Regions from separate parts of the Homo sapiens genome. Here region 1 is reported to be linked to region 2. The links are microRNA targets in miRTarBase. Many come from high-throughput screens and were not tested one by one. Region 2 holds a microRNA gene; the other region holds the end of a gene's coding sequence.

Evidence for each region. The annotated mature microRNA hsa-miR-129-2-3p reads AAGCCCUUACCCCAAAAAGCAU and lies in region 2 at 1,781-1,802, opposite strand. An mRNA with a match to its seed (bases 2 to 7 or 8) in the 3' UTR can be bound and repressed. Matches are read on the target gene's strand: a 7mer-m8 pairs with bases 2 to 8, a 7mer-A1 pairs with bases 2 to 7 and ends in A, and an 8mer does both.
Region 1: the mRNA of SNX9 is a reported target of hsa-miR-129-2-3p. Seed matches in the 3' UTR shown: 7mer-m8 at 2,152-2,158.

Annotation. Positions count from the first base shown.
Region 1 is chr6:157,942,084-157,946,083 of GRCh38, reverse strand. SNX9 (sorting nexin 9) reads right to left here. Exons shown (of 18, transcript NM_016224.5): 18 at 1,007-3,293. The coding sequence ends at 3,246. Among named protein-coding and RNA genes, the nearest start is that of SYNJ2, 38 kb to the left of the region's middle.
Region 2 is chr11:43,578,796-43,583,251 of GRCh38, reverse strand. MIR129-2 (microRNA 129-2) reads right to left here and starts at 1,858; the gene lies at 1,769-1,858. It overlaps LOC124902807 (potassium/sodium hyperpolarization-activated cyclic nucleotide-gated channel 4-like), which reads left to right and starts at 1,817. Exons shown (of 3, transcript XM_047428006.1): 1 at 1,817-2,235; 2 at 3,242-3,878. The coding sequence starts at 1,817. It also overlaps a transcript of HSD17B12 not described here. RefSeq lists an enhancer at 1,774-2,573 and silencers at 3,634-3,893, 3,994-4,043.

The sequences.
Region 1 (4,000 bases), not on the chromosome of region 2:
AGGTTGGGAAAATTGAGTTACACACACACAGGAAAAACAGGGCCATTCTCACCCATCACTGTTCAGTTCTGCTCAGCCATCACACCTTTTTTACTTTGACTACTTTATAGACTGTGAGGTTGGGTGTGGTGGCTCATGTCTGTAATCCCAGCACTTTTGGAAGCTGAGGTGGGCAGATCACCTGAGGTCAGGAGTTCAAGACCAGCCTGGCCAACATGGTGAAACCCCGTCTCAACTAAAGATACAAAAAAAATTAGCCACGCATGGTGGTGTGCGCCATGGGAGGCTGAGGCAGGAGAATCCCTTAAACCAGGAGGCAGAGGTTGCAGTGAGCTGACATCATGCCACTGCACTCCAGCCTGGGCCACAGAGTGAGATTATCTCATAAATAAATAAACAAGACTGTGAGATTCTGGATTCCCAGTTGTTAGGCAGGGATCTATGGATTTAGTGAAGATGTAGACCAGTGGTGCCGGGAGAGGCTGCCATGCACAGCCTGTCAACGCTGCCCACCGGGGGCGGGGGGATGGGGGGTGCCCACAGACCATCTCCCTGGGACTGAAGCCCATGACAGAAGTAGATCATGCTGTCTCTTCTCTATGTGAGTAGACCCACGAGTCTCATGGCCCCTTCCAGTATCCATGGAACAGCAACAGACTAAATTACTTGCTTGTAAGTAGGGCAACATCAAACCCCAGACCCAGCAGGTACTTTTGTAAGAAAACATTTTTAAAATGACAGAATAAGAAAATGAATAAAGCTACCACAAAAGAAAGAAAGTGAATAAAGTCACCAATAAGAAAATGAATCAAGTTACGTTGTTCCACCCAGTGCCTCTGTGAGTCATCTTTCTTGGTGACCCCAACACCTACAAACCATGCAGTGGGTTGACATCCCGGGACTGCTGCTCCTGGTGGGAGGCAACTGACGTCACTTGCTTGACAACGAGACTGACCTTTTCTTCCACCACGCCTTCATCTCTCCTCTCCAAATACTGACTTTTTTTCCACTATATTTGTAAAAGTTATGTGATTGTATGACTACAGCTCTTCTGTGGTACCTACAGGTTGATACAAATCATTAAAAATCAAAACATCAACGTATCTAAGAACCAAATGGTGCATGTGACTCCCCGGAGAAGGATATATATGCCATGTTGCCACTTGAAGGAGAATCTTCCAGGCATCAAATCCCGTGGATTCTCTTATTTTCTTTCACATTCCCTCTGCTTTTCCTCACAGTCGGCTACCACGCTCTGAGGAGCCCGTGCCATCTCCATTTCCCCCATCCCTTTTTCACTTTGCCTCACACCAGTCAAATCCAAATATCCGAGAGTCAGACACTGGGAGACTGTCTGCTTCTTGGCAACTCCCAGGTGGTTATGATACGCTTCCCGGACCGCAACACTGACCTACGGAACTGAAATGATGAATTCATGTCAGAAGAAATAGGATTTGGGGAAGAATTCATTACCTGGACCATTTTCAGCAGCTGGAATAAAAAGTACTTAACAACAACAACAAAAATCACACACAAAGTCCAAAAAGTGTTTTGAAAAAGTGCTTTGAGAATTTACTGTACAGTTTTTTTAAACAATTTATTTATATGTTGGCTTCTACATGCTCTTACATTCGTGTAAAACATTTATACATATTCTTTACAATTTGTACATATATTAAATGGCTATAGCATAAACATTGTTCTATGGGATTTTATAGAAGAAAAATCAAGTGGGGAGAATTACTTATGAAACATTAACAAAAACCCGTGATATTGAAGAACAAGATGTTCTCATATTCATTTGATTTCATCTACTTATTTTTGGTGTCATTTTATTGATGCTGGCCCAGACTTTCCATTTCCCGTAATTATTAGGTCAGAAAAATGAAAGCAGCGGGAGGGAACGCGGTAAGGCACCTGTGGGAGACGGGAGCGCTCCTCCGCAGGGGTGAGACGGTGGCTGCCAGTGTTGAGTTCGAGCTGACGGTGTGCCAAGGTCCTGTTTTGCTTTATGCCGTTAAGTGAAGCGCTGGAAGTGCTGGTGCTCAGAAACACCCTGTGTGAAGTTTCGGATGTAGTCGGGAAGGGCGCTGGTCTGTTCTTTCTCTCCAACCTCAGAGCGCCGGGGACTCTGTACACTGCTGAGGCTGCAGCCCTTCTCAGTCCCTACACTTTTCCATCTAATGGGGAGCTAACCTGTGCTTTTTCTCTTTGCTGATGACACCAACTGGCCATGAACCCGCCACCCAAGCCAAGCAGTGTGCCGTGGCCACAGCAGCGCTTCTCATCACGGTGGATGAGGAGCCAAAGAATAAGAAAGGGCCAGAGACGCCGGGGTGCTGGGTGCCCTCCTTCTCCCAGGCCCTCCCGAACACAGGCCTCCGCACAGCCACTCACCCGTTGGACCAAAGCCACAAAATTCTCTACAAAGTCCCTCAATTCTTCTAATGTATTCTTCATGGCATAAAACATGCCTTAACCAAGATTAGGAAGGAAGTGCAAAGAGAGAAAGCACTGGTCCTCACATAAGAGCAGCACATCAGAAATGTCGCTGAGGACATGGGTGGCCAGGGGTATCTGCTCATCTGCCAGGCTGTGGGGTCCCCCTGGAGGGACATGGGATGGCCCACCTGCCACACACCACGATGGCACTAGCAGCCCCAGGGGCCCCCAGCGTCCTCCCTCTTGAAGTGTAAGCACTTGAGCTGTAACTGTGGCAGTGAAAGGCGTAACGACTTCCCTCAATGACAGGAGCCCCAGAGGACTGAAAGGAGTTATAAAAATATACAAACATAGATATTTTTTATTCTGGCATAGTTCATGTTTTTAAGAAAGTAATTAGTAATTAATTATCTGACACTGGGTAAGAACTGGAAGATTGTGGGAGACTTATAAATTATATAAGACTTATAATTTATAAGACATATAAATTATGACTCTATGTAAAATATCAGTGGGGAGAAACCCCTCATTTTCCATTGAAAATTCTGGTAACTTTTAAGTACTTTCCAAAAATAGAGACAATTTCCACTGGTTTAAATAATGGATGCGGAAATGAACAAAAGACCATCCCTAAATAACTGACGCATTTAGGGTGGCTAATAAAATAAATGCAGTTTTTTGCAACTCTTTCTTTTTGGTTTTGTTTCCTTTTTTTTCTGAATAATAGGGGAAAAAAAGTTTTGAATTGCATTGCCCCAAGTCAGGAGAAAGCACGCGGCATTCTCTTCAAGGCCCGTTCTGTCCTACATCACTGGAAAGCGGCTGAGGGCCTGCCTCAGCTTTTCTGCAATCTGACAAGAAAGCAAAACAAAACAACGTTGAGATATCACTCCCATTACGACCTCACAGTGTTCTTTATTCACAACTCCAACAAGTTAAACATGACACAAATTCCAATTCTTTAACTGGTCTTTTTGGCACCAGCCCTGCCCCGCGTTGCTGCTGGACAGACCTTAACCCCGAATGACACCGGCAGCGCTGGGGCCCGAGCTGGCCCTGGTGGTCCCTTCCCGCCGGGAGGCGTCTACACATGCTCCCCACCTCTGCCCTAGCGGCGCTTCCAGACCACCTGCTTTTCCTCAGATGAGCTGGGGGCTCAGGCCTTCATGTTTGCCTAGAGCCCCCTCTTTCCTGGAGGAGTATGAGCTTCCAGAATCCCCTGAAGGTTGTGTCGCCCTGGCCACACCCTGCTGTCACTGCTGAGTGTGCAGACAGCACGAGCCTGCCTGTGAAGCTAACGAGGCGCTGCAGTGGTCTCTGCGCCAGGGCCTCTTGCTCCTTGAAGGCACAGCTGTCTTATCCATCCCTGGATGCTAAACATCCAGCACGAGGGCTTGGTATATAAGAAACACTCAATATATGTCTGCTCCATGAACACATACACAAATTTTAGTAACTTAAGGGTTACTTTGCCATAAAACTTAGATCTAAAACCTAACAATGTTATATCAGCTACTTAGGTTTATGCAAAGACAGTGATGAAATACATGGTTTTCTA
Region 2 (4,456 bases):
AGAAGTGAGGGGGCTAGGGTCGCAATAACCCTGAGCCGCCTGCGCTGCGGTGGCTCAACCTCTTCTGTGCAAGTTCACTTCTCTTGGGCCACCTCTCTCCCAAATCTGGTGAAGGTTCAGGCTTTGGGAGAGAGGAGGGCTTTCTGGCTGGGAAGAGGAGGGGTATGTAAGAAGCAAAAGACAAAAGAGGAGCTGAAGGGACACAGGGTGAAGCTATTATTAATCTAACGTGGTTCTTATGCCTCTCCCTCCGCAAAGCTATCGCTCCACAGACGGCCCCAGGTGAGAGGCAGGGAGGAAAATCCCCGGAGCTTTTGCTTTTTGCTCCATCTCCTTTGCAGATCTTAGGAACCTTTTTACTCTTTTAGAAAACGTATTCAGGGAGGGAAAATTTCCTTTATCTGGGGAGGAAAGCTCTGATTTAGCCTTAGAGCTTGGAGTGCTCGCCTTCCGTGCCTTCTCACAGTCTTAGCCATAAAAGATTGACTCTGTCCAGCACCCTCGGACTCTGCAGCCCTTTCCTAATTCTGGAGAGGGTAGAGTCCGGGTGTTCAACCAGCGGACAGGTTAATGACGGTGGGCGTTTAGTTTGTTGGAAGAACGGTGGTTGTGATACGGGGGAAATTCAGGCCCTCCCCGAAAACGTGAAGGTTCGCAGCCCTCGGGTCTTGAACTCCGGTGTCTCTAGACCCATCTTCTACCCATTTCTGTCCCTGTGGGCACTCATGTGTGTATGTGTGTCCTTCTGGCCCAGTCCCTAAGGGCAAGGGCGTCTAGCAGTGTTCCTAGCAGGCGAAGGGCGCGGGGAGCGTGGTGAAGGCCTGATTTGTGCCACTTGTGACCGAAGTGGTCAGGACTGCAATGAGTGGAGGGGGAGGAGGGGGACTCACAGACTCTCCCCTCTCCTGCAGCTTTGCCCCCCTCCCCAGGACCGGCGCCTGGAGAGGCCGGGATGGGGCTGCTGCTGCTGCTGCTGCTTCTGTTCCTGCTAAGCGTCTGAGTCGGGCACAACCGCATCTCTCCAAAGCTCCTTCTCTGCGGGGGCTTCCCCAGTTCTCGCCTGTTTTACCCCCTTCCGTGCTACTTAGTTTTGAAAAAGAGGAGATGTGGGAGACCCGAGGCTGCAAAACGCCCCAAATTAGGTTGGAAGCAGGCGCGGGAGGAAGAGACTCCGGGGATCGGGCGGTGCCTGGGTGTTTTCCCTCTTTTTCGGATCTACCCAATTCACCGCGGCTCGCCTCACCTCCGGGTCCCCCGCACCAGGACATAAGATACTAAGGGCCTCCAGCCCCTCCCTCAAGGGCTTCCCCACCCCCATATTGCAGAATCGGATCATTACGGTCAAAAATGACCACAAAATGTCCTAAACTGATTCATATTCCAGGTTCTGACTTGGCCTTAAGCTCAGATCCTTTTCTTTGCATTGAGTGAATGGGGTTATTCGTGGTGTGGGCGGGGGTTGGGGGGAAGACACAACTTCTGTAAACTTTTATTGCATTTTAGCTTCTTCTCACTTCTCCGAAAACACACACACCCCACCTGCTCCAGTTCCCCCTGTGATACAAAGTCTGTTAAAAAGTTGGGGGCGGGGGACTCGCTCGGAGGGAAGACAGGTGACCAAAGCCTCGGGCACCGCGGAAAGGACGGGGGAAAGGGCCGAATCTTCCGTGGAAAACGGGGAAAGGGCCGGGTAAGGCTCGGATGGAGCAGCTTCGGGAAGGTGCGGGCTTCGGCGATCGCTGGATGGCTGCCGTCTTCTCGACGAGTGCGCCCTCCGCAAATGCTTTTTGGGGTAAGGGCTTCCGGCTATTGAGTTATGTACAGCAAGCCCAGACCGCAAAAAGATTCGCGAAGGGCAGAATATGCCGGCTTCTTCGGTTCGCCGCCGCCTTCAGCCCAGGATGTCTCCGAACCCTGGAGCCGAACAGGCTGGGTCTCCCCAGCGCGTTCCATCGCGGCTCAGTCTCACCACTCCGCGCGCTGCCCGCCCCTCCGCGCCCCTGGACTCGTGTCTCCATTTCTCCAGACCGTCCGCGATCCCCCAACTCAGCCCCGAGAGAAGTGTGTGGAGGGCGAGAAGGGGACCGCAGAGGGGCACCCGGATCCCGGAGCCCAGCCTCCACCCCTTTCCTGTCGCCCCAGCACCCGGAGCCTCCCCGCCTGCCTGTCCTATCCCTCTATCTCCCTATCAGAGTTCCGCCAGCCCCGGCTGCAAGGTCGCGGATCTCTGAACAGGTACAGTTCGGATTCCCCCCGAATCCCCTCTTATCCCTCAGAGTCCCCCAGCCAAGGTTCCAGCCGTGACTACAGGCGCTGCGTAAAGAGAAAAACTCCCCCAGAGCACTAAATAAATACAGACGAGGCCGCCAGCTCATTGGTGCGGACTAAAATCGTCACCCACCAATCAGAAGAGAGCTCACATTTCCCCCTTTTTTTTCAGAAGGGGGAGGGAGAAAAAAATATTTCCATTTCTAATTATTCAACAAAACCTAGACTGGAACATGTTAAAATATTGTTGTTGCCAAAAAAAGCGGTTCAGGACCCCCTCCTCATTCCAGCCCAAGTGAGGGGGTAGCGCGATGTATTGGGAAAGAGAGGTTTAAGAGAGCGACCTCTCCCAACGGGACCCAAGCCAGAAGATCCAGACGAAAAATGACAAAGATGAACATAAAATAAACCCAAACTCCACACTAGTCATCCTATTTCTAGAAAATTGAGAATGTCTCAACACCCCCTTTCCCACCCAAAGTTCTGAATGCTCAACTAGGTGAAGCTCCTCCCTCCGCATCCTCCCCGAAACCGTCTCAGTATTGGGTGTTTAATGGCCCATTCGCCTCAGGTGCACTTTCAACTCTGCAGCCCACCCCCCCGCCCCCAACTCTCTACCCATTCTGCAGAATGCTAGGGGGAACAACAAGGGGCGAACCCGTCATTGACTGCCTGACCCCACAACGACGGGAGATTCCACCTTCTGCGGGAGGAAGAAAGGAGGGGAGGGAAGACTAGAGATGGGGAGAAAGGAGATCTCCTTCCCTCACTCTCCCTCCCTCCCTCTTCCTCCCTCCCTCTTCCTCCATCCCGCTCGGCCCCCTCCTCCATCCCATCCATCCAAACTTTGAGGGGTTGCCCTTCTTCGCAGTGCAGCGCCACCCTTCCCACATCCTCTCCTGCCCCTCCCCCCCCCCATTAGTACCTAAGCAGGGTGTGGGCTAAGGGACGTCCTGACTATCTCCCTCCCTAGCAGTATAGTCCCCCAGTGGGGGAAACCTCACCCAGGATGGGTTACTGCAAACATTGCAAGAACTTGGGGGGAAAGTTGCCATATTTGTTCTTTGGCACCCTGGAATCGACGTGCGGGCGGGCGCGCGCGCGCGCACACACACTCCCACCCTCGCCCAGCACGCCCGGAGAAAACGTCTCTCGACGGTGGAGGCACTGTCTTCAAGTCCCTGTCGACCCACCCCCTTCGCCCATCCATCACCCTCCTGCAGCTCCGCGACCCACTCACCCTCCCACGGCATCCCCTCGGCTCCGGGACTGACAGACGCAAGCACACACCCTCCGAGCGTCTGCGCGCCCGCCGCGCCAGAGGGGCTCCGCGGTCTGCGCCCGCCGCCGCCGCGGCGCGGGGCAACTGGGAAAAAAAAGTTCTGCTCAGACTACCCGTGAGCCGACCGACTACCAGTGAGCCGACCGACCACCAGCCGACCCGGGCGCCGACTCCCTGCTCCTTACCTCGGTCTGGGGGCCACGGGAGCGCGCCGGTCCCGTCCGCACTGCAGCCAGCTGGAAGCAGCCCCTCTCCTGCCGGCCCGCTCCCTCCGGCCCCTCCCCGCCCCCCACGGGTGTTTGCCCGGCGGCAAAGCGGGTTCTTCCAGGTAAGTATATAAGTTACTGTACTGTGTGGGAGGGTCACGATCTTGGTAATTGCGGCTTTCCGAGCTTAACCCCTGCGTTCCTGCCTTCCTCCAACTTGTTGAAGACTCGTCGCTTAGCGGGAGAGCGAGCAGGCGCGCCACTGCGAGCGCCGGCCGGGAGGGGGAGCGAGGTGCGCGGGGCAGAGAGGGGACAGCGAGACAGCAAGCGACGGAGTTCAAATGCCCCCCTGGCAGCGGTTTTCATTGGATAGGTCTTCCCCCCCACCCCCGTCCCCACTGATTTGGTGCCCCCCCGCCCCCCATCTCCCATGTAGGGGACGTCTCCAGGCGAAGTCACGATTCCTTCTCAGTTCGGAATGAACTGTGACTAGAGCCATGACGCAGCCAGCGCGCATTACTCACTTTTTGCAGTCACGACTTGGGAATCCGTGCTGGTTCCAACCAAAATTACACCGCTACCATTGAATTATTTAATAGGATCCAGTTCGGGGGGTAAACTTGTGCATTGTGCCAAGCAATGAGAAGGGGTGGGGAAGAATGGGGAGGTGGAAATGAGGCCATGGGGTGTCCCTCCGCCC